Linked DNA regions of Homo sapiens: region 1 is linked to region 2. Evidence: fine-mapped expression QTL. Tissue or cell type: whole blood. Region 2 holds a variant in brackets; the other region holds the start of a gene. All regions are shown on one strand. Distances are from middle to middle. Region 1 holds the start of SPTLC1 (serine palmitoyltransferase long chain base subunit 1). Region 2 holds the start of LINC00475 (long intergenic non-protein coding RNA 475).

Region 1 (12,334 bases), 20 kb after region 2:
GGTGGGAATGCAAAATGATGCAGCCACTCTGGAAAATAGTTTGGGCATTTTTTATAAAACTACCCTGTGATCCACCAATGGCAATCCTGGGCAAGTATCCCAGAAAAATGAAAATTGATGTTCACACAAAAATCTGTACACAAATGTTGATAGCATCTTTTATTCATGACAGCCTAAAACTGCAAACTACCCAAATGTCCTTCAGCACATGAATAGCTAAACAAACTGTGGTACACTCATACTATGGAATGCCACATGGCCATCAAAAGGAACAAACTAGTATTCCATGCAGCTTCCTGGATGAATCTGTAGGGAATTATGCTCAATGAAAAAAGTTAATCCCGAAAGGTCTCTTATTGTATGATTCCATTTACATAACATTCTAGAAACCCAGAACTATAGAAATGAAGAGAAGGTTAGTGGATGACATGGACCAACGAATAAAGGCAGGGAGAGGAAGGGAACTTGGTGTAGTGGTAAAAAGACAACACGAGAGATCCTTGTGGTAAATGAATGATTCTGTATCTTGACTGTCAATGTCAATATCCTGGTTGTGATATTGTACTATAGTTTTGCAAGATGTTAACACTGGGGAAAACTGGATATTGATGACATTGAAGGTAAAGAGTACATGTGCTATTTCTGAATTATTTCTTACAACTGCATATGAATCTAAAAATATCTCGGAATAAATAATTTTTAAAGCAATATTGTATTGGTATGGTACAAACAAATAGACTAATGGAATCAAATATAGACTCCAGATATAAATCCTATTAGGTTTGTTTCCCCAGAAGCAGACCACAAAACAAGGATTTGTGTAAAAGTAATTTATTAGTGAGCATTCTCAAGAAAAAAATGATAAAAGAGAGGGGAGTTGGGATGAGGAAGGGAAGGCTACTGGAGTGAGTTGAATGGTGGATCTCAAAAAGGCATGCCTATGTCCTAATCTCCATGTGATGGTTAGTTTTAGGTGTCAACTTGACTGGGCTAAGGGATTCTCACATAGCTGGTAATATTTATTTCTGGGTGCGTCTGTAAGGGTGTTTCCAGAAGAGATTAGCATTTGCATTCATAGACTAAATAAAGCAGATTGCCTTCACTAATGTGGGTGGGCATGATACAATCCATGGAAAGTTTGAGTAGAACAAAAAAGCAGAGGAAGGGTACATTTCATTCTGTGTAAGCTGGGACATCCATGTTCTCCTGCCCCTGGACTTTGGTCCTCCTGGTTCTTAAACCTTTGGGCGAGGACTGAATTACACCACTGATGTTCCTGGTTCTTCAATTTGCAGATGGCAGATTGTGTGACTTCTCAACTTCCATAATCATGTGAGCCTTTTTTTTTTTTTTTTGAGACAAAGTCTCGCTCTTGTCCCCCAGTCTGGGGTGCAGTGGCATAATCTCGGTGCACTGCAACTTCCGCCTCCCGGGTTCAAGCGATTCTGCTGCCTTAGCCTCCCAAGTAGCTGGGATTACAGGTGCGTACCACCATGCCCAGCTAATTTTTTGTATTTTAAGTAGAGACGGGGTTTCACTATGTTGGCTAGGCTGGTCTCGAACTCCTGACCTCAGGTGATACACCCGCCTCAGCCTCCCAAAGTGCTGGGATTACAGGCATGAGCCACTGCGCCTGGCCAAGCCAATCATTATAATAAATCTCCTCTTATGTAGAGATCTATATATGTTTTATTTATCCTGTTTCCCTGGAGAGCCCTATTATACCCCAGAGCATGTCAATGTGACCTTATTTGGTGGAAGGGTCCTAACAGATGTAATGAAGGATCTCAAGATGAGATCATCCTGAATTATCCAGGTGGGCCCTAAATCTAATGAGAAGTGACTTTATAAGAGACACAGAGGAGAGACACATACAGGAAGAGATGGCCATGAAAAGATTAAGGTAGAAATTACAGTGATGCTGCCACAAGCCAAGAATTCCTGGAGCCACCAGGACCTGGAAGGGGAAAGAATGATTCTCTCCTAGAGCCTTCAGAAAGAGAGTGGCTCTGTCAATACCATGATGTTGGACTTCTGATCTCCAGACTTTGGAGAAAAAAATTTTGTCTGTTTTAAGCCACATAGTTTGTGGCAATTTGTTATGGGAGCCCTAGAAAACTAATACAGATTTTGGTACCAGGAAGTGGGTGCTACTTTAATAAATACCTCAAATTGTGGAAGTGACTTTGGAACTGAGTAATAAATAGAGGTTGGATGGTTTTTGAGGTACTTGAGAGAAAAGTCATAGAATTTCTTGAAGAGACTGTTAGTGGAGTTATGGATTTTAAAGGCAATTCTGGTGAGGGAACAGAAGGAAGTGAAGAGCATGGTAGAGAATTCTTCCATCATCTTAGAAATGTATATCTCATCATGAGCAGAGTGTTAGTAGAAATACAGATGTTAAAAGTGGTTTATGTTGAAGGCTAAGAAGGAAATGAGGAACATGTTACTGGAAACTGAAGGCAAAGTGATCCTTGTGACACAGTGGCAAATAACTTGGATGAATTGTGTCCTTAGGTGGACAGCAGAATTTGTAGGCAATGAACTTGGATATTTAGCTGAGGAGATTTCTAAGCAAAGTGTTGAAGATGCAGCCTGGTTTCTTCATGCTGTTTGTAATGAAACAGAAAAGGAAATAAGCAAATTGAGGAAGGAGCTGTTAAGCAAAAAGAAACAACACTTGATGATTGGGAGCTTCTCGGCCTATTCAGATTGCAAAAGATGCTAAAATTGGGAAACTCACTGTTGGGAAAGTGTACTCTGGATACAGGGCCGAGGGTGTGCCTAGACAATATTGTGCTGAAGAGATCTGCTATACAACTGATGGATCCCTCAATTATCTCACGGATCCAAGGATAGATCCAGCGTTATCCAGGAAAGATCTGTGGGGGTTCTTTTATCTAATGGCATGGATCCCTGTGACATACATGGGAGCCTCAAAAGTTCTTGAGAAGGTTGTACCAGAAGAAACACTGTCAGCTTGGCCTGAAGGGGCTGAGACAGGACAAAGTGAAAGAGAGGCTGTCAGATATGCACAATTCTTCAGGCAAGAAGAGGACTGATAGAACTACTCAGGTATCAGCATGTGCTGCCCTTCAAGAAAAAGGAAGAATCACTATGAGGACAGGGTCATGGGCACAGGGGTAGAGGCTGAATGTTCAAGAGCAGAGACCTACCAAGTTGCCATGAGCAAAGAGGCCTATGAAGCCATGAGCCCAAAAGACACAGCTTCAAGCCACAGAGGATTATTCCCAGACCTTGAAACCAAATGACTTTGCCTTGTTGGATTTCTAACTTGCTTGGGATTGATGACCCTTTTATTCCTTCTAATTTCTCTGCTTTGCAGTGAGATTGTCTATCATATACGTGGCCCACCTTTGTGTTTTCGAAGCAGGTAACTTCTTTTCTAGTCTCACTAGTCAATAGATGCAGAGGAATTTTGCCCTTGCATAGCTCATACCCATAGACTCACCTACACCTGATTATTTATATGTGAATATTTGAGACTCTTTGAATTAATTTTTATGATATTTAGGTGAGAGTTAAGACTTTTGGAGATGTTGAGACGGAATGAATGTATTTTGCACATGAGGCAGATGTGAATTTGGAAGGCCAGAGGTTGGACTATAGTAGGTTAAATGGTAGAGCCCAAAAAGACATGTTAACATTCGAATCAGGGAATAGAACCTGGGAACATGGCCTATTTGGAAAAAGGTTCTTTACAGATGTAACTAAGTTAAGGCTCTCGCTGGAAGAGGCAAAAAAAGTCTTCTCCCCCCAGAGCCTTTGGAGGGAGTATAGCCCTGTCAACACCTTAATTTTGTACATCTGGCCTCCAGAAATGTGACAGAATAAATTTCTGCTGTTTCAAGGCACCCAGTTTGTGATCGTGTGTTACAGCAGCCCTAGGAAACTGATACAGAGGCCAAGCAAAAGTTCCAAATCAAGCAAAGTCCCACGGTGTATTCCTTCCAGTTATCCCAAAATATAACAATCCCAAAACAGTGGCTTAGAACAATAACAATCGTTTATTTTTGCCCACACATTTGGGTGTCATCTGGGCTTAGCTAGGCATACCTCACTCAGGGTCTCTCAGTGGTGGTAACCAGATGGTGGCTGGAACTGGAGCCACCTCGAAGGTGTCGTCCCTCACACGTCTGGTACCTGGACTAGTAAGACTCAAACAGCCAGGGACTGGGGCAGCTGGGGCCCCTTAGTCATCTCTTTCCCCTTCTATGTGGTTCTCACATGATCTTTCTACATGGCAGCTGTATTCTCTTATAGAAGCTGCCACAAAGATATGCCTTTTGATGAGTGTGTAAAAGAATTTGCAGATAGTACCATTGACTCAGAATTGCAGAGAGTATGGTGAAGTTCACCCCTCAGAGTTGTCTTGCTAAGTAGGGCAAGGAAGCTGCAATATTTATATCCCAGCTACCATCAGTAATCCACACTGGTAAGTACTGCCCAGGAGAAGATACATTCTCAGATACTTCCAACTCTCCAGGAGAGCAGGAAACGTGGGAATGGCAGCCTTCAAGGGGGTCCTCTGAGAAATGCAGGCGTGGCTGCTGGAAGGAAAGCACCCGGGGGAGGAAATGCACGCAAGCACAGGACTGTGAGCAGAGCACTGACACGGACTCCATATCGCCAGCTTATGTGGAAATGTAGCACATAGTGTAGCGGCATCATTATCTGGGGTAATACCTGAGGTTCATTGTCCCACAGCCATGGAAAACTAGGACGCGACACACCACAGTGAGGTTAAGAGCAGAAGTTTAATAGGCAAACGAAAGAGAAGAGCTATCTGTGCAGAGAAAGGGGTCCCAGAGAAAATGGGTTGCCAGTTCTGCGGTGAAACGCACAGGGTTTTATAGATGAGCTTGAGGAAGTGGCGTTTGATTTACGTAGGGAATGAAAGACTGGTTGGACCAGGTGTGCCATTTGCATAGTGCATGAAGAAGCTGGCCTTCCCACCCTAATATTTTATTCTGCAGATGGCTTCTCTACCTGACTGATGCCATGTTGCCTGTTCCTTCACTGTACACGTGGTGACAAAGAAAATGGAAGATGGAGTCTCCATATTGAACATACCTGGCTTCCAGGTAGTCTTTTTCTATCGGCACAACTGCCAGCATTCTCCCGTGCACTGCCAGCTTGCTTATCTATGTTTGTAGCTCAATTTTTCAGGCTGCTCTTTGCAAAAAAGAAATAATTTTGGGGTTGCTTTTTGTTCAGAAAGAAGCTCTGCTGAGGACTCTCTTACCTTCACTATCTGCCTAAATAATTTCTTTTTGGCTCCTGTATCAATAGCACTGGTACCATTTCAGAATTCTGGGGAAAGTCAGGGTTACTCAAATAAATGGCACTCAAAAAATTGTTATTCCTTTAGAAAAAAACATAATTAAGTCCCTTAACTCTCATTATCCAAAAATATAGTTTCCAGAGTAAAGAGCTAATTGCAAATAACAACAAACTGCTGCAAGAATGGTTGGAAACCATAGATGTGGTGAAGAAGGCCTTTCTAAGCAATATGCAGATCCAGAGGCAAAAAACAGACTGAAGCACTACATAAAATTTAAAATTAAAGTATGATGAAAGAGCAGAAACAACTAGGCGGCAACTGAGCAAAAATATTTTTCACATATGAAACAGAAAAATATAAGATATTCAGAATGTATAGAGTTCCTACAAATCCATAAGAAGGCAAAAATAACCAATAGAAAAATGGATTAAGAATATGAATTGGCGATTCATACAGTCTATAAATGCCAATAAACATATAAGAAGCTGCACAACCTCATGAGTAACCAGAAGCATCAATAATAAAGGATAGTGAGGTATCATTTTATCTCCATTAAACTGGCAAATTTTTTTAAAAGATTGATAATATCCATCATGGACTAGAGCATAGAAAAACTTCCAAATTATTTTAATTGGTTGAGCCATTTTGGCAGTACTTATCAAAATTAATAACGTGCATAGTCTTCAGATATATCCCATGTTGAAAAAACTGGTCAGAAAAACTCCAACATGCACAGAAAGATATACACACAAGGAACATCGACAGTTATGGCAGCATTATTTGTAATAGGGGAAAGGTGGGAACAACATAAGTATTCACCAATAGGGAAACGTTTACATAAAATGGAACGATGAATATACATAAATTATTCCATGGAAGTCTTCAGCCATTAAATATGAGATATATTAGGAAAAAAATGCTAGAAAAAAAATTTAAAAAAAGTTGTAGAAAAGTCTTGTCCCTATGATCTCAATTATATTTAAGAAATCCAATCCAATTAAGTATGTGCGCGTGCATACTGTTTGCATATGCATTGGAAGGCTCTAAAAGGTTCTTTACCAAACTGCTATATGATTTAATACCTGCAAAGCCTTGGCCTATGTCTGACAAAACAGGAAGTGCTATATGGGTTGGCTATTTTTGTGTATAATTATGCATTTCTTAATGATAATGCATTGCTGGATTACTTATGCTACTAAACGTAAACGTATTGGCCAGGCGCGGTGGCTCACGCCTCTAATCCCAGCACTTTGGGAGGCCGAGGCAGGCGGATCACCTGAGGTCAGGAGTTTGAGACCAGCCTGACCAACATGGAGAAACCCCGTCTCTACTAAAAATACAAAATTAGCCAGGCGTGGTAGCCCACGCCTGTAATCCCGGCTACTCGGGAGGCTGGGGCAGGAGAATCGCTTGAACCCGGGAGGCGGAGGTTGCGGTGAACCGAGATCACGCCATTGCACTACAGCCTGGGCAACAAAAGCGAAACTCCGTCTCAAAAAAAAAAAAATAAAGTAAACGTATTGCAATCATTTTAACTCTCTGCGCCCAGCTGATGACCAAGTGTAAGGCCCGTTCATTACTACTTTCTCCATCCTGAATCCAGCAGGGAGGGTAATAGGACACAAGGTAAACAATTCTTGGAAAAACTGCGGCATCCCACCTGACCCCGTCCAGCCTCCTGTCAACCAGTGCGCAAGTGCGAGTAGGCGGTGCCCAGCGCTCCGCCGCCCCGCCCTCTGCGGAGGTGATAACGACACTGAGCAGCGACGCGCACTTTTGGGACGCGCTTGTGACCCGCCTTCCGGAAGGAAGCGGCTAACTATGGCGACCGCCACGGAGCAGTGGGTTCTGGTGGAGATGGTACAGGCGCTTTACGAGGTGGGCTCCGCGCCATTAGCGGTCCGCGACCACACCCGGGCCCGGGGAGGGTGGGAGGACGCGTGTGGATTTGTGGCCTGAGACCTCGGCGGGACTGGCTCGGTCACGCCCAGACTCGGTGCCTCTTGCTGGAAGGACTGCCGGGAGCTTCTAGTCCCAGCGGTTGAGTGTAGGGAGGAACGGGCGGGGGCGGGGGCTGGGACTGAGGGTCTCGGTTTGAATTCTTATGCTCCGGGTCCCCTGGAAGCTCCGGAAAGGAACACGTGTAAGGGGACGCAGGAGACAGGTCTGCAAAAACCAGAGTTTAGACGGACGATAAAACGGAGTGGTGAAAATGAGTGGAACACCTTCGTCTGGGAAGGTCCTAAGGAAGTCAGCTCTTTGGAACTACGGTACAGTTCGTTGGGGAATAAAATTGTAATAAATTGGAGTTTGTTTTTGTCGAAAAGAAATCAAGTGACTTAGGATTTGTGAATAAAAAATAGTTTGTCATTCTTCTGCGTACATCAGTTTTCTGTCTTATAAAGATACAACTAGTTTAGTCGATTTTTATTTATTTATTTTTGTTTTTTTTTTTTGAGACGGTGTTTCGCACTTGTTGCTCAAGCTGGAGTGCAAGGGCGTGATCTCGGCTCACTACAACCTCCGCCTCCCGGGTTTAAGCGATTCTCCTGCCTCAGCTTCCCAGGTAGCTGAGATTACAGGCATGTGCCACCATGCCCGGCCAATTTTGTATTTTTATTAGAGACGGGGTTTCTGCATGTTGGTCAGGCTGGTCTCGAACTCCCGACCTCAGGTGATCCGCCCGCCTTGGCCTCCCAAAGTGCTGGGATTATAGGCTTGAGCCACTGCACCTGGCCGTAGACTTTTAAAGGAAGAATAGTTAAGAGTTTTTTGAAGCCTAGTTATTTCAGATACATAAGATAATAAGAAACCAGAATGTCAATCTTAGTGTTCATTCATTTAATAACTGAGAGTCCCCGTGCTGTCTTGCAGAGCTATTCATTGGGCACTGAAGAACTTATTTTATTTTATTTTATTTTTTAAAGACAGGGTTTCACTCTGTCGCCCAGGCTAGAGTGCAGTGGTGCGATCAGCTCACTGCTGCGTTGACCTCCCAGACTCAAGCGATCCTCCCACCTCAGACTCCCGAGTAGCTGGGACCACATACCACCATGCCCAACTAATCTTTTTTTTTTTTTAATAGAGACGGGGGCTTGCTGTGTTGCCCAGCCTGGCCTCGAACTCCTGGCCTCAAGTAATCCTCCTGCTTTGGCCTCCCAAAGTGCTGGGATTACAGGCATGAGCTACCACACCCAGCTGCAACTGAATTTTTAATTTAACTTAAATAGCCACGTGTAACTTAGTGACTGTCCACATTGGACCACACAGATCTAGATGCTAGGGATAGTGCGGTGAACAAATAGGCAGAAGTCCCTGTGCTTAAAGAGCTTACATTCATTTCAAGTGAATTTCACTTTACTTTTGATGATTTAATATCACCAAACTTAATATCACCGTCTACTGGTAGGGGTAATGACAGTGTCTTCCATTGCAGGACATACTGGGAATTTTATCTTGAAACAGCAGAGACAGCAGATGTGGCTCTGTCTTATGCTCATGTATTAAGTGATGCCCAGTATTAGGTTAACTGTAGTGACCTAAAATGAGCCACTAAAATTGAATGATCTTTTTTATAAATGATTTTTTAAAGAAATGGATTATTTTCTGTTAAATGTTGTTTGCTCCCTTTTTGAAGACTGACAGTAGTGTAACTTCTCATTCCCCGAAACTGTCCAACAGTGAGACTTGGGAGAACTCCTGTATGTAACATTTCCTGGGAAGGAAAAGAAGTGGTGTTTGTGATTTTTATTAATTCACTAGAGAGAGAGTTTCTCAGCTTTTCTTAGGGTGATTTCTTTTTGGAGTGGGCTCTTAACTAGTGGCTGGGGCAGATGTTTGCTTGCTAGAATCCAACTATTGAGAAAACTAAAAGGGTATTTAGACTTATTCATAAATGAATTGTATTTAGGGGGATGAGCAAATTTTAAAATTCATCATAAACTTCTTACTCCCAAATCCTATGCGTGTTGAATGTAGAATTTGAGTAGTCTTGTATAGTGTACCCAAAAAAGAACCACTGAAATTAAATAATCCGATGGTTAATATTGGGATTCTGTGTTAGATTTTATTTATTTATTTATTTGAGACGGAGTTTTGCTCCTGTTGCCCAGGCTGGAGTGCAGTGGTGTGATCTCGGCTCACCACAACCTCCACCTCCTGGGTTCAAGCGATTCTCCTGCCTCAGCCTCCCAAGTAGCTGGGATTACAGGTATGCGCCACCAGACCCAGCTAATTTTGTATTTTTAATAGAGACAGGGTTTCTCCATGTTGGTCAGGCTGGTCTCAAACTCCCGCCCTCAGGTGATCTGCCCACCTTGGCCTCCCAAAGTGCTGGGATTACAAGTATGAGCCACCACGCCTGGCCTAGATTTTATTTTTTTAATTTTAATTTTTATTCCCAAAGAAGTTTTAAAAGCTAAAAATATTAGGGGTTTTTCATGTGAGGGAGAAATTGCCTGCTATTAGAAATGGGGAAAGGAATGAATAGAAATTAAGGGAGCTTCGAAAGTAAATTGTTAAGAATAGGCTAAAAGTCACAGGAGGCAGTATATGCAGGTGTAGTAAATTTTATGTGCAGGTGTTAGAAGTGTATGTTTCATATCTTACTTGTTTTTGACTCACTCTTAGGCTCCTGCTTACCATCTTATTTTGGAAGGGATTCTGATCCTCTGGATAATCAGACTTCTTTTCTCTAAGACTTACAAATTACAAGAACGATCTGATCTTACAGTCAAGGTACGAAATTAAATCTCTGTTTTAATTATTGGGTATGTGATTATAGTTGCTATGTCTTTCCAGAAAGGATTTGTGGTGGCTCAACCATGTGTGTTAAAGCATTTTCTGTAATGTAAGGAAATCAAGGGGAATGAATTATTAGGGTAGGCAAAATATGGGGAAATCTAGAAATAAAGTCAGTACCCAAATGAAGACCATATTATGGTCTTGGATACTTTGCTAGGAGTAAACAGCAGTCTTGCAAATAGATGGTTAGAGGGAAGCATGGGCAACTACTGGAGTTTGAATATTCATAAGTGTTGTGTGAGTTGCTGCAGAATAGCACAACTATTTCTGAAGTATGGGATAAAGATTCCCCTGTGGTCTTCTTAAAGGAGAGTCAGAGTAGAAAAGAATCCTACTCATACCCATCTCAAATTGAATTTTTATGTGTATGGTAAATCAAAAAAGAATTCTGAGCATAGAAGTTAAATTTTCATAAATTGTCAAGTCACCCACAAAACTACATGGAAAAGAACCTCTAGCTCTAGTGATAAGGAAAGAGGCGAGGGTGGTTAGTGCACAAAACTCACAAGTGATTGTTTTTATTCTAGCCACAACGAGACATGGTATTTCTAGCAGTGTATTCACTGTGACTTTTGCATTGCAGCAGACAATTTTGATATTGCCGAAGTTGAAGTAAAGTGACTGCGCCTGAAAAGCTTCAGGGGGTTTGAATAAGGATAGCTATAATAACAAGTGCTATGTGGCTTACGGAGGAATGAGTGATAAGTGATTTTAAATCAGTTTGTCTTAGACAAATAGAGCTTGTTATAACTATTCCTCATAAGGATAGTATGAGGAAGGGGTAGGATATATATTCTATTAGGGGGCTGAGGATGAGGGTAAGTCATATGATACCGTAGCCTCCTAACTACTGAGCTGGCAATAGAGACTTCTATGTGGGCTTTAGGGAGTCATAGGTGAAGTTCGTATAGGGGTATTTTTACTATAAAAGCCATAATACATGCTAGTCATATAAGGTTGTTAGATCAGAAGTTTAATAGTTCTTGATTAGTAAACATTATTATTAGGATATTTAGTGAACCTGAGCTATTTCAGGTGTGGATGAGTGTAATAAGTAAGGGAAGGGATCCTACTAGTGTGTAAAATAAGTATGAGCTTGCATTAGGCATTCTGGTTGGTTACCTCAGCAGGTAATAATGATTAGGGTAGGGATGAGTGTAGCTTCGAAAAGAATGTAAAGTATGACTAGTTCTGTGGCTGTAAATGCTGTAATTTAAAAAAGTTGTAGGAAAATTAATTTGGAAATACGGAGTTTTTTTCCATAAGGGTGATTCATTAGATAGGTGATGTTGGCCTGCTAGGATTATAAGAGGTAGTAGTCAGGCTGTTTGGATTAGAAGAGGTGATGTTAATGCGTCAGAAGAAAAAGTTAATGAGAAGTTAGATGAATTATTGTTTGGTTGATTAAAAAATAATAGGGTAATGAGGCTGATGAATAGGCTATGAGTAGCTATATTCAGACTATAGAGTTTTTGGAGAGTTATATTGTAACAGTATAATTGTTGGAATAATAATTTTTGGCATTGGAGTAAATTTAGATTTTGTACATAGTCTAGGCCTTATGCGTTGGAGATTGAGACTAGGAAAGCAAGGCCTACTGCGGCTTTGCAGGCAGCAAATACTAAGAGGATAATGGGTATTATGAATCCTAGAGTGAAATGCATGTTTAAAATTATGAGTGTATTTATGATAAATATTGATAGTATGATGCCTTCTAGGCATAATAGAGATGGTATTAGGTGGGATCGATAGATTAGTACTCCCAGCAGTGCTATGGTATATGCTAATATAATGTTAATATAAATAAATGGCATTTGGTAAATATGGTCTATCATAATCTAATGAGTCGAAATCATTTAATTTAAACTATTTACCAGTTCAACTCAATCTAATCCTTTTTGGGTTCATTCATAAATTAGGCCTAGGATTAGAATGGTAATTAGTAGAAGGGTTGTACTGATTATTAGTATAAGGTTATTTGTTTGAAGGGCTCATGGCAGGGGTAGGAATAGGACGATTTCTAATCGAATAGGAGAAATGTGATGGCTACTAGAAAGAATTTTATGGAGAAGAGGAGGTGGGTAGAGGTTAATGGATCAAATCTACATTCATAAAGGCTGGATTTTTCTATGTAAGTATTAAGTTATGCAAGTCAAAATGTAATTACTACTAATAATAGAGTTAATAAAGTGTCAGTTATTAGGGCTAGTGCTAGGTTAATTACTC
Region 2 (12,334 bases):
CCCACCTGCTCCCAGCTCCTCTGAGGAAGTTGATGGAGCCTGCAGAGCTGGGCTGGAGGAGGTCTCCTTTCCCCAGAGCGGGGCTGGGGGTGCGGGTAGGTGGCCTGGAATGTGCTCTCTCACCCTCCTCCTGCCCATGTGGTAAGCAGCGAGAGCCCCCAGCCCTCCAGCTCTGAGGGGAAGCTCCTGTGAGCCAGACGGACAGGACAGCTGCCCCCAATAGGGTCCCCTTCACGGGCCATCTCACCCCAACTCAGACGCTAAAAATGGTTCTCCGCTTTTCAGCCTCCGCGCCTGCCCACAAATTAGTGTCTCCAACACAGCCTCTTGGGACATGACTTTAGGGAGGCCCCTGGGGGAGCCGGGAGGCCCCAGTAAAGGGAGATGGTGCTGGCAGAGTCCCTTTCTGAGGAGACAAGAGTGGATAAGGCCCCCCTCCCAGCTTCTGGGACCCCCCCCCCAAAGAAGGCCACCCAGCCTCAGTGTGACAGCCCTGTTGTCCTCACCATGGCAGAAGAACAGACATTATTTCCACCCCACTGGGGCACGCTCCCCTCACCTCCACCTCCAGTTCTGTCAGCTTTACCCTCAGCCACCATCCTGGGCACTGCTCTGCTGGAAGAGAATGCAGCAACAGGAGATGGGGGAGCCAGCCCCGCGCCCTCCCGCTTAGGGTCCAGAACCCACCTTGCCAAACCTGGGCTCCCGCAGTCAGCCCACAAGCACGGAGGCCAATGGGGAAGCCAAGTCAGGGAAGCCTGGTCTCCCTGCTCGCCTGATATTTAGTCTCAGACTCTTCTCCCCTCCCCAGTCCCGCAACGGTCAACTTGGAAGGGGGTGAACCCTCTCCGGGATGCCCACGCCCCAGGGCACCAAGCAAGCAGGTGTCCTGCTGAGGCCAGGACTGGGTGCAAGCCAGCAGCCCGCAGTACCAGGTGGAGACAGGCGGGCAGTACTCACAGGTAAGCCGTCAGGGGATCCAGGTCCCCCGGTATGGCGGACAGCCCAAGCTCAAGAGCAGTCGGCAGACAGCATGATGCCGTCCTCCTGGCAGTGGCAGGGGGCCGGGCAGGCGGTAGGCCCCGGGCCGGGCTGGGGGGCGCAGCCGGCGCTCGGGGAGGCGCACACAGCGGCGCGAAGTCACAGCGCCCGGAGCCTGGGCGGGTTGGGCATCTCGGCGGCCGGGCTGCTGGGTCACCTGGCGGCCAGGCGCGCAGACGCACGGGCGCGGTGTCCGCAGCTGCTTTCTCCCGGTCCCGGCGGGCTGCGCCGTCGGTGGGGACCGCCCCGGGGGCTCTACTGGGCGTCGGCGGCGGGGCGGTGCAGTCAGAGAGGAGCAGGCATTGTTGAGTGATCTTCGTTATTCAGTTTCACAGGCTGGGCTTGGCAAGGGAGGGAGACCCAGCCGGAGGAGGAGTCAAGGAAACTTTCTACGCTGCGGCTAGCTCCCTTCCCTCCTTCCTTCGGAGCTGGCAGGAATTTCATTCAGGAAAGATAAAAAAAGGAAAAAAGCAAAGAAACCCAAGCGAGCAAAGCTCAGCCCGTCAGAGACCTGCACTTGTTTAGAAAGGGTGTCCCAGGGCCTTGGCTGCAGGGCTGGGGACCCTCTTGCCTTTGGGGATAGCCACGGGGTCACATGGGACCCAGAGGAGATCTCTGAAAGAGGCCTTGGGGCTCTCATAGCCCCTCATGCCTTCACCACGTTTCACACTGGAGGAAACAGAGACCCAAGAGGAGAAATGATTTGTTCAAGGTGACACAGCTGATAGGGCATCCCCAGAGCTGGAACTCGTCAGCCCTCCTCGGCCTTATCCTAGGACAAGAGAGAGGGGAGTGAGGGGCTACCCTGGAAGAGGCCAGGCTGCGGAGGGTTCCACTGCAAGCTGGGATGACCCGGCAGTGGGCAACCAGGAGCAGTCTCCTCCCTGAGAGGTCGCGCCTTGACTCCAAAGAAACGGGTGTGGAGTTCCACTCGCTGAGTGCACCCTGGGTGGAAATGCACTCCTGCAGCCTCTGTCAGGTTTACTGTCAGGTTTACGGGGACCACCTTGATCCCTGCTCCCAGGACCTCGGCAGGCTGAGGGACTGCGTGCAGCTCAGCTGCTTGTCAAGAGGCCACCTCAAAGTAAGCAGATTGGCGCCACCTGGAGGCCGGGTGCTGCACCTGCAGCTCGGCCACCCTGAGGCTGGAATCCCACCAACTGGCTGACCTGGCCGGCCCCAGAGCCCTGGTGAGCAAAGGGCACGGTGGTTAAAACTGAGGCCAATCCCTGTTCTCTCCTTAGACCATAGTGAGCTGGCTGTGCTTCCTTCACGCAGCCTCTTGCTGTCTCTGGTCTCTCCCATGCTGAGCCAAGCCCCAGTGCAGAGCTAGAGCAGGCTGTGGGCACCCCTCCTTCCTTTTTTGCCCTGTCTCCCCATGGTCCAGCCAGAGGGTATACCAGAAACCTGGGACCTCAGAGGCATCCAGGATTTCTTCCACCCTGTCCTTCCACATGCCAGAATCCTCTCATCAACACCTCTCCACTCTCCGATAACCTCCCAGGGCTAGAGGGGCTGCATAGCCGGACCAAGAAATGAGCAGACCCTGACCCTAGGCCTCCCGTTGGTGCCATGGCGCTGAAAGTAGAAGATGAGCCTCCTAAGAAGGCTAGAGGATGGGCCTACATGACCAGAAAGACTCACAGATAGAGCCACCTTTGCCCTATGGCAGAAAGCTACCACAGGCCAGCCTGCACTTCCTTCACTCAACCATAGCCTTGGCTCCATCTCATTTGCAGCTCCTGCTGCTCCAATGTGAGATTTTCCCAGAGTGGAAAAGCCATGGTTGAGCCCTGTTGCAACCTCAGCAGCAGCTGCTTGAGACAGACTTGGGCAGCTCAGAGCAGAGCCTCCAGCCTGCTTTTGTGAGGGTCATTAGGGGGCCCACCCTCAGCTCCTGATAAACATGGCATATGGAGGACACCGGCATTTAGTCCTCCTGGGAGGGCACCAGTGCTTTAGTCTCGTTCTGGGAAAGCTCCCGGCTGAGCAGCCAGCACGACCTCTGTACCCTTCTTCAACCAGGCCTGAGAAGGACCCTCCTGACTTCTGACCCGTTGCACCTTAGTAGGAACTCAGGTTGGCCAAAGAGCTCTCCCCGCTTCCCCTTGGGGAGACCCGACTCCATTTCAGGGACTCTTGCTCTGATCTTTCCAGGCTTTCTCTGTGTCCTCCCAGGGCCTTCCACCAGGGGCAGTTAGTGTCCAGCATCAGGCACTGCACCTGGAAACTCCCAGCCTGACCAGGGAAGCAGGCAGGAGCTCATGTGGCCACCAGCAATCATGCACATGGTATGCAGTGCAGTCCTACAGTGTGTGGGACAGACAGCTGCCTCCCCACCCTCTTTTCTGGTCTCTGCTGCTCCTCCTGGTTTTTCCTTTCTCCATATGCCTTCCCTGCTTTCTCCCCCACCTCTTATGTAGAGGGGAGGAAGAAGGAGACAGAGAAGGAGCAGGGAAAACTTGGCACCTCCGCCTGAGGGGTGCCTCCAGCACCTGCCTTCCGAGTAACAGGGTAGCTCTGGCACCTCCATCCTGGTGGGGGCTGAGGGTGGCCCCTGGGGGCTCTGGCAGGTAGAGAAGGCTGGGGATGGCAGGAGAAGGGAAGTGGGAAACAGGATAAACCCTACTGCATACAGCATGGTGCGTACAGGGTGATGAGGCAGAGGACAAACAATTTGGAGCTGTGATTCTGAATCCAGGGCTTAGCACCACAGGAAACTAGACGTGGAGAGACCAAAGTCTGAGGAAATTTAGAAACTGGAGGATTAGCAGGGAGAGGATTGCTTCAGGGGAAAAACCAACAGCATAGGGGCCATAGGTCACCAAGTTCAACCAGACTCCAGGTCCTAGCTTCCATCCCGGCTCCATGTTTGCCCACGAGACCCACACGCTGGGCCCAGGCCTGAGGATGGACAGACAGAACACACTGAGCTTCAGGCTTGGCCACAGGTCTTTATTCCAAGACCCTGTACCTTCCCAGCACAGGGCCCAGTGGAGGCCGCCCTTCCAGGGAGCCCAGGCCCACGTGGATGTGTCAGGAATGCTGTCCCCATCCCACAGGGCACAAACCTCTCCTGCACCGTGACCAGTGCTGACTCAGGGCAGCCCGTCTGCCAGCGCGCTGTTCAGACAGTTGTAGAGGTAGACATACTGCTTCTGGAGATGGACATAGGGTTAGGAGGCTCGCCCCGCCTGCCCCAATCTAACAGAAAAAGGCTCCCTTGTGTCCCCCAACCCCTAGGGCTCCATCTGGGAGAACGCACAGCGGTCCACAGCGCCACCTGGTGGCTACCCGGGTGGTGCTGCCTAGAGGCCTGGGCAGAAGCTCCCTCATCCCCCCGCCCCTTCCCACAGCTGAGCCCCCACGCCAGCCCGGTCGCCCCTGGTCGCCTCTCACCAGTGTTGGGGTCATAAGGCCACAGGCCTGAGACTGCTGCAGGGCCACGTTAAAGATATCCACGGTGCACTCAGACCCTGCCTGCTGCAGCAGCTGCTCCATGGCCAGGAAGGTGCCCAGCTGGGTTGCACCCTTGCTGCAACTGACCTAGAGGTGGATGAGGTACCTAAAGGGGGTGTGGCGGGGGTGTCCACGGATGTGGGAAAACCCAACCTGGGCGCAGGGACTGAGAAGGGACACCGGACACTTGGTCAGCCGGCCAGCCTGGACCTAGGGAGGGAGGCGGTAAATTCCCACCATATTCCTGAGGACAGGGTAGGGTGTGGAGAAGACAGGGGCATTGTGAGACTGTGTCCTTTTGACCCATAACCCAAGCAGAGCCCAGGGAGATCTGAGGCTATGCCAGAAGGGCAGGGAGGGGCTTCCAGTGTCCGCTCCCCCAAGACCATTGTCCACTCCCCCAAGACCATTGTCCAACAACACTTGGAGTGGCTGAGCAGTGTGCCCGGCTTCTTGTTGTTGCCCCGAGAGCAGCACTGGCCCACAGCAGCCAGGAAGGGCAGCAGGGTGGTGGCGGGCAGCTCATGCCCAGGCTCCAGGTATGGAAATTGCAGTCTCTGCACCTCCCTTTCCTTCCTGCTCTCCCCCTGTGGCAAAGACATGATCAGCATTGGTGCTGGAGAGGGCAGAGGAAGCCCACACAGGACTCTTCCCCATGCACCACCCCATGCCCTGTGGCCCCAGCACCTACATGTGTGACCCTGAGGAGGGTACAGAACCAGCCTGCTGTGCTGCTCTCAGCCACCCAGTGCACCGTCACCATGTCTGTGACTACGGGCTGCATCTCCGTTGGCCAGAATTCCTATGGCTGGGACCAAGTTAGGGCTGCTCAGGCAACTTCCTGAGATCTCTGCCCCTGCCCTGGTCACAGACAGCACCACAAACTACCCGCCTCCATCCTCACCCCTAACTCCTGAGCCTCCCTTCCTCTGTCCTCTGCTCTGTCACCTTCTCCATGACATTGGGTGGGCAAAGAGAGACAAGCACATGAGCCCTGTGCTGCCACACCAGCTCCCAGAGCTCCTTTGGCCCTGCGGGGCCAGTCAGCACCGTATGATCACGGCCAGAGGGCCCACCCTGCAGAGCACAGATCATTGGCTTCCAGAGACTGAAGGTGCCCCCTGCCCAGTCCACAACTCTGGGAGCCCCCAGCAGCCCCAGCCCGGGAAGTACAGGTGGTCAGAGAGGGCAGGAAACAGTGGCAAAACCAGCATCATCTCACAGGGAAGAGCCAGGCTTCGGGCATGTCGTCAGGGGGGCTCTCCTCCACCGGAGAAAACTGCCCCTGAGAACGGTCATCTGAGGGAAGACAGTGAGGGTGAAGCTGCCAGAGGTCCCCAGCCCACGCTGGCCCCCTGCCCCTCCACAGGGTCCACAGTGAGACTCACAGGAGACGGGGCTGTCCTGCTCATAGCCAGGCGGGGGTGCGGAAAAGCCAGCCTCGTCCTTGATGGCCTACAGCAAGAGCTGGGAAGGAGATGGGTGCCCTGAGGCTGGGAGGTCTCACTGCAGGGTTGGCTCAGCAG[C/G]GGAAGGCTGCCCTTGGCTGTCACCCACTTCCCGGCCTGAAGTGTACCTCGTACTCCTTCAAGAAGCCAGCATTGGCACTGGCTGCCCTCTTGGCACACGCCTGCGGGAGGTCCGTCACAGAGATGGGCCAAGACCTGGTGGGGGGGTTGGAGAGGGAGAAGGCACTCAAGGTTCCCCAGCTCCCCGTTCTAGTCCGCTCAGCTCTGCCCACGAACAGGAGCAGGGAGCCTGCCTGTGGGAGGCACAGGGAAGCTGGGACTTACTCAGAGATGTTGAAGGGTCCTTCCAGAATCTTGTTCAGTAGGCAGCTGTGCAGGAAGACGTACTGGCTCTGCCAGGGGAAAAGGCATCAGGCTGCTCAGCGAGGAGCGAGGGGGGCCTGCAGGGAGATTTTTCAGGCCCTGACCAGCAAGGCAGGGATCAGGTAGGAGGGCAGAGGGAGCCACTGAGAAACCTTCCCTCCACCGTCCCATGGTGTCAAAGCTGACAGGATCCTGTCCCACCTCCCCTTTCACAGAATAGAAAGCACAGCCCAGGTAGGATGGTGATGTGTCTGAAACCCTCTCCCCAAGGTCTTCTGTGTGCCCCATGAGCTCTCTTTCCTGGTCCCTCCTGTAGCCCTGTGGCCACCCACCTCCCTCCCACTCCTTCAGGGTCCCAGCTGCCCAGCCCAGCCTGCAGGGCCCTCACCAGGGTCTGGATCATGAGGGGCTGGTGCATCCGGAGTGCATACACAGCATGGAACACGTCTACCATCTGCTCCTCCTCCAGCTGCTGCAGCAGCCTCGACAGGGCCACGAAGGTGCCTGTCCGGCCCATGCCCACACCGCAGGGACAGCCCCTGAGGAGCTGAATGGGTGAAGAGGCTGCCCATGTCCCCAGCTCTCCCCACAGTCCAAGAGCCCTCCATGCCCCCAGGCCAGGCAGGGGGCTCTCCACCCTATGCACTCACCTGCTGTCACCTGCAGTGCACCAGGATGGGTCCCACGCCCTGGGTGGCCCTTGCCTGCTACTGTACCAGCTCCATAAAGGCGAGCAGGGAGCTGGGAGCCTCAAGGATGCTGTGGTCGGATCAGGTGGTGAACTGCAGTTGCTCCACCCTCCGTTGATGTTGCTGGACAACCTAAGAAGGGGGTGGGAAGGGGACAAGGGGGCAGAGGGGCCCTGCTGCTGCTCCTTATCTTCCTAACTCCAGGTTCCCATGGCCCAGATCTCACACTTTCTTCCCCAGCTGCCTAAGGGCAGGGATGATGCAGACCAACTGTTCCTTGAGGGTGGCAGCTATGTCTCCCCCATCAGGATGCTTCCTGAGCCCTCAGGTCCTTCTCTAGCCTCCTGGGTAACCTCTGCATATAGAGGGTGCCTGGGCAGAGAAGTGATTCGGGTCTCTGGCTTTCCTGCCCCAGGGGTGCACAATCTGGGAAGGAAGATGGGCACAGGGGGCATGGGGTGAGGCAAGAGCCCTGAGCTGGCATGGGGGAGGTCAGGAACCATCATGTCTCTCCTGTTCTTCCTTTCCCTCACTGTGCAGCCTCAGATAAACCCTTAATCTTCTCTGTGCCTCTCTACCCCTTCCCTAACACACTCTTCCCTGGGTGGTGACTGAGTACTTGTGGTCCTCCGAAAGAGAGGGCTCCAGGGACCCAGGAAGTGAGGCAACCTTCTCAGGGGTCTCAGCTCTAATGCCTGTCCCATCCCCTCATCCTTGGGGCACGCACGTGCTGCAGCTGGAATTCCCGCTTGGTCCACTCATCCTCAGGCTCCTCAGCTAGGAGGTGGATGGTGATGTGACCATGGGTGTCCGGGGTAGAGTCGGTCAGCCAGTAATGCTCACACAGCACCTGGGACCAGAAGGTTGGAGAGGGGAAGGGCGGCTGTGGGCCCAGCCCTATCACTGCCGCCCCCTGCTTTACTCAGTCCCACCCCTCCCTGCCCACCTTTCTGGTCCCTGCCACCCTGCTGGGATTCTGCTCTCTGTAATGACCCAGCTCCAAGGCTTCCTCCTCCAGGAGCTGCTCTCCCTTGCCTGGGCTCCGGCACCCTTGCCCTCAGACCTCTCATGACTCTCAGGATTCTGAGTCAGCCACAAGGTTCCTGTGCCAAACAGAACAGCCCTTATTCCGCGGCCAGCGGCCCTGGGCTCACTGCTCCAGCAAGAGGACAGACTCGGCAGCCTCTCTGCATGTCCTAGGGCCCTGCATCTGCCAGGCTTATCGAAAGGAAGGATCCCTGATGGTACCTTTGACACCGGCCCTGGGCAGTCCCTACCCCTTGATGCCTTCTCTGCCCAGGGCAAGAAGCCCGTAGAAACAAAGCCAAGCTGGGAGTTTACATACCTGTTTCCTCCCACTGCCTCCCCATCCCAGGTCTGGGTGGGAGGTGGGTCCACTACCCTCCAGGCCTGATTGGCCTCACTCCAGTCTGCCCCGCCTTCCCACGGGAAGATGCCAACGGGGCCATCCCCACAAGGAGAACGTGCGCCACCTGGTGGCCTTTCTAGGAGCCTGCAAGGCGCACTCACCCTCCCGTTCTCCATGCTGATGGTCGGCATGATGATGATGCGGACCTGCTGCTCCCGCACCAGCCGCCAGAAGTTCTCCAGTGTTTTCTTGAGAGGCCCCTGAGAGGCAATGAACTCCTGTGGGCGGGTGTAGCCCTGGGGTGTAGGAGGCAGAGATCAGGAACATGGTTAACGGGCAATGCTTGGTGTCAAGCACACAGCAGATTTCCAACATTTGACCTCCAGGAGTGAGGATGCTGTGCACACACCTACATGTGTGCACACACAAGAACACGTGTGCACCCAGAATGCAAACCAGAAGGGCTGACTTCAGAGACATCACCCCCGTCCCTGTCCCACCCCAAAGGGACAAGAAAAACCCCAATGAAAACAAGATACTGACATGAGTTAAATAGCCCATCTAGGCCACCCTCTTCACCCACCCAGAGTTACCTTCCTAAAACCAAACTGCGTTTCTTCCATGCTCAAAAATCTTCTATGGCTCCCAATTGCCCACCAAATAGAGTCCAAAGCCCTCAGCCTAACAATCAAGCCCTCCTTCATTCAGCCCATTCAGCCCCAGGCTATCTTTCCCATTACATCTCCCACCACCCAGCACCTCCCCACTCCCTCACCCCTACGCACCCCCCACCACACACACACACACACACACACACACACACACACACACACACACTCTCACACACTGCCTGAACGTTACTGCCTGGCTGTTCTCTGGCTGCTTCTTCCAGTCAACAGAATGTCCTTCCCTCTTTCATCACTTATCAAAATGTTACTCATCCTTCAATAAATCAAATGTCCCCTCCTCTGGGAAGCCTTTCTTGATTCCTCAGGTGGATGAAATTTCCCCTTCCTCCATGTGCCCTGAGTAGTGTTTTTTCCTCTATTACAGCCCTTGTCACAGTGTGTGGTGAATGTCACACACATGCCTACATGCTCCTTTGAAGGTGGGGAATGTGGCTAACAGCTCTGCCTCCTGCAGGCCCAGCACAGAGCCCAGCACACAGTAGACCCTTGCTAGACACCTGCTGGATTGAGCTCATGAAGCCCAAGCTGGTGATCTCCTAGAGAGCTGTTACAGCTAATGAAGGCAAGTGTGGCCTGCAAACCAGCCCATCTCCCGAGCAGATCCCAGATCCCATGGACAGCCTCACCGGTGGCCCTTACTGGGACCAAGTTGGCATTGATGTAGTCAGAATGAGGCTCTCCCTCCAGCTGGGTCAGCCTGACCCTGGAGTGGTCATCTGCAGAGAGTGAAAGCTGTGCATTCAGGGTTGGGCACATGAAGCCCCCTGCTCCCATGCCAAGCCCTAGCCCTCTGCCATGCCTCCTTTCCTGCCCCCAGCACTCACAGGGTAGCACATGTGGTTAACAGTTCTTGGTGGTGTTGGCAGGGTACTCAGCCTCCAGTCTGGGCTGCTCCTTGCTCACCTCCTTCAGCTCCTGCAGGGATCAAGGGCAGGCACTGGTTGCTGAAGTAGACCGATCTCACCCCATGCCAGGAAAGGGGCAGTGGGGGCAAGTGTGCAACTGGGAGTTCCCTCCAGACCTTCAGACAGGTCCCAGTCTTCCCTCCTCTGAGCTCACGGGTGGTAAAGGCCTCACCTCGAATTTCAAAAAGAAAGCCTGGTGCGCATGAGCACTCTTGGCCTCATAGTTCTGCCTGAGGCCACAACGACCACAGGCTTATGTAACAACACTCAATCCCATTTCAATTACTGAAAGCCTTCTCAAAAAGGATGGATACAAACACTCCAGACTACAAAGATTGAAATAAATACCTAACTCTTCAATGCTCAGATATCATTGAACATCCACAAGAATCAAGAGCATCCAGGAAAACATGATCTCACCAAATGGACTAAATAAGGCACCAGTGACCAATTCTGGAGTGATTAAATTATATGACCACTCAGACAGAGAATTCAAAATACCCATCTTGAGGAAGCCCAACAACTTCAAGATAACACAGACTAGGAATTCAGAATTCTATCAGATTAATTTAATGAAGAATTAACATTTAAAAATCAAGCAGAGGCCAGGCACAGTGGTGCACGCCTGTAATCCCATCACTTTGGGAGGCTAAGGTGGGCGGATTACTTGAGGTCAGGAGTTCCACACCAGCCTGGCCAACATGGGGTTTAGTAGAAACCCTATCTCTACTAAAAATACAAAAAATTAGCTGGGTGTGGTGGTGCATGCCTGTAGTCCCAGCTACTCAGAATGCTGAGACAGGAGAATTGCTTGAACCTGGGAGGCAGAGGTTGAAGTGAGCTGAGATTGCACCATTGCACGCCAGCCTGGGCAACAGAGTGAGAATCTAGCAGAAATTCTGGGGCTTAGAAACTCAATTGACAATCTGAAAAATGAATCATAATCTCTCAACAGTAGAATTGATCAAGTGGCAGAATGAATCAGTAGATTAAAAGACAGGTTATATGAAAGCACACAGTCCAAGGAGAAAAAAGCAAAAATAAATAAAAGAGAAGGAAGCACTATTACAAGATCTAGAAAATAAACTCAAAAGGGCAAGTCTAGTAACTACTGGTCTTAAATAGGACGTAGATGGAGAGACTGGGGTAGAAAGTTTATTCAAATAAACAATAACAGAGAACCTTCCAAACTTAGAGAAAGACATGAATACCTAGGAACATGAAGATCAAGAATACTTAGAATATTCAAGCCAAATAAAATTACCTCAAAGTATACAATAAGCAAACTCTCAAAGGTCAAAGATAAAGAAAGGATCCTAAAAGCAGCAAGAGAAAAGAAGCAAATAACATAAAAAGGAGCTCCAACACACTTGGCAGCAGACTTCTCAGTGGTAACCTTACCAGCCTGAGGAAATAGAATGACATTCAAAGTATCAAAGGAAGAAAAACTTTGGACTAGAATATTATACCCAGCAAAATTATCCTTCAACATAAGAAGAAATAAAGACTTTCTCAGACAACAAAAGCTAAGGGATTTTGTCAACACCAGACCTGTTTTACAAGAAGTTCTTCAATATGAAAGAAAAGGGCATTAATGAGTAACAAGAAAGCAACTGAAGATATAAAACACACTGGTAAACTTAAGTACACAGACAAATACAGAATAGCCTAATACTGTAATTGCATTATTTAAACCACTCATATCATTAGTAGGAAGACTAAAAGACAAATCTATCAAAAACAATAATGACGGCCAGGTGTGGTGGCTCACACCTGTAATCCCAGCACTCTGGGAGGCTGAGGTGGGTGGATCACGAGGTCAGGAGATCAAGACCATCCTGGCTAACACGGTGAAACCCCATCTCTACTAAAAATACAAAAAATTAGGCGGGCATGGTGGTGGGTGCCTGTAGTCCCAGCTATATGGGAGGCCGAGGCAGGAGAATGGCGTTAACCCAGGAGGTGGAGCCTGTAGTGAGCCGAGATCATGCCACTGCACTCCAGCCTGGGTGACAGAGTGAGACTCCATCTCAAAAAAGAAAAAAAAATGATAATAATAATGACAACATGGGAGGCGAGGTGGGTGGGTCACTTGAGGTCAGGAGTTTGAGGTGAGCCTGCCCAATATGGCAAAACCCCATCTGTACTAAAAATACAAAAATTAGCCAGGCATGGTGTTGCACACCTGTAATCCCCACTACTCAGGAGGCTGAGGCATGAGAATCGCTGGAACCCAGGAGGCGGAGGTTGCGGTGAGCTGAGATCAGACCACTGAACTCCAGCCTGAGCGACAGAGTGAGACTTGACCTCAAACTAATAATAATAAAAACGACAGTTTCTTAAGAGATAGATG

Evidence for each region.
Region 1: it holds the start of SPTLC1, and the variant in region 2 is fine-mapped to the expression of SPTLC1 in whole blood (INTERVAL, PIP 0.94).

What each region holds. Positions count from the first base shown.
Region 1 is chr9:92,110,163-92,122,496 of GRCh38, reverse strand. SPTLC1 (serine palmitoyltransferase long chain base subunit 1) reads left to right here and starts at 7,084. Exons shown (of 15, transcript NM_006415.4): 1 at 7,084-7,183; 2 at 9,935-10,042. The coding sequence starts at 7,127. It also overlaps the pseudogene MTND3P23, the pseudogene MTND4LP7 and the pseudogene MTND4P15. RefSeq lists an enhancer at 6,522-6,581.
Region 2 is chr9:92,130,277-92,142,610 of GRCh38, reverse strand. LINC00475 (long intergenic non-protein coding RNA 475) reads right to left here and starts at 1,144. Exons shown (of 4, transcript NR_027341.1): 1 at 961-1,144. It also overlaps the pseudogene LOC100128076. RefSeq lists enhancers at 280-858, 859-1,438, 2,018-2,597, 8,233-8,472, 8,077-8,708 and a silencer at 1,115-1,294. The variant C/G (reference allele first, on the strand shown) is at 6,027.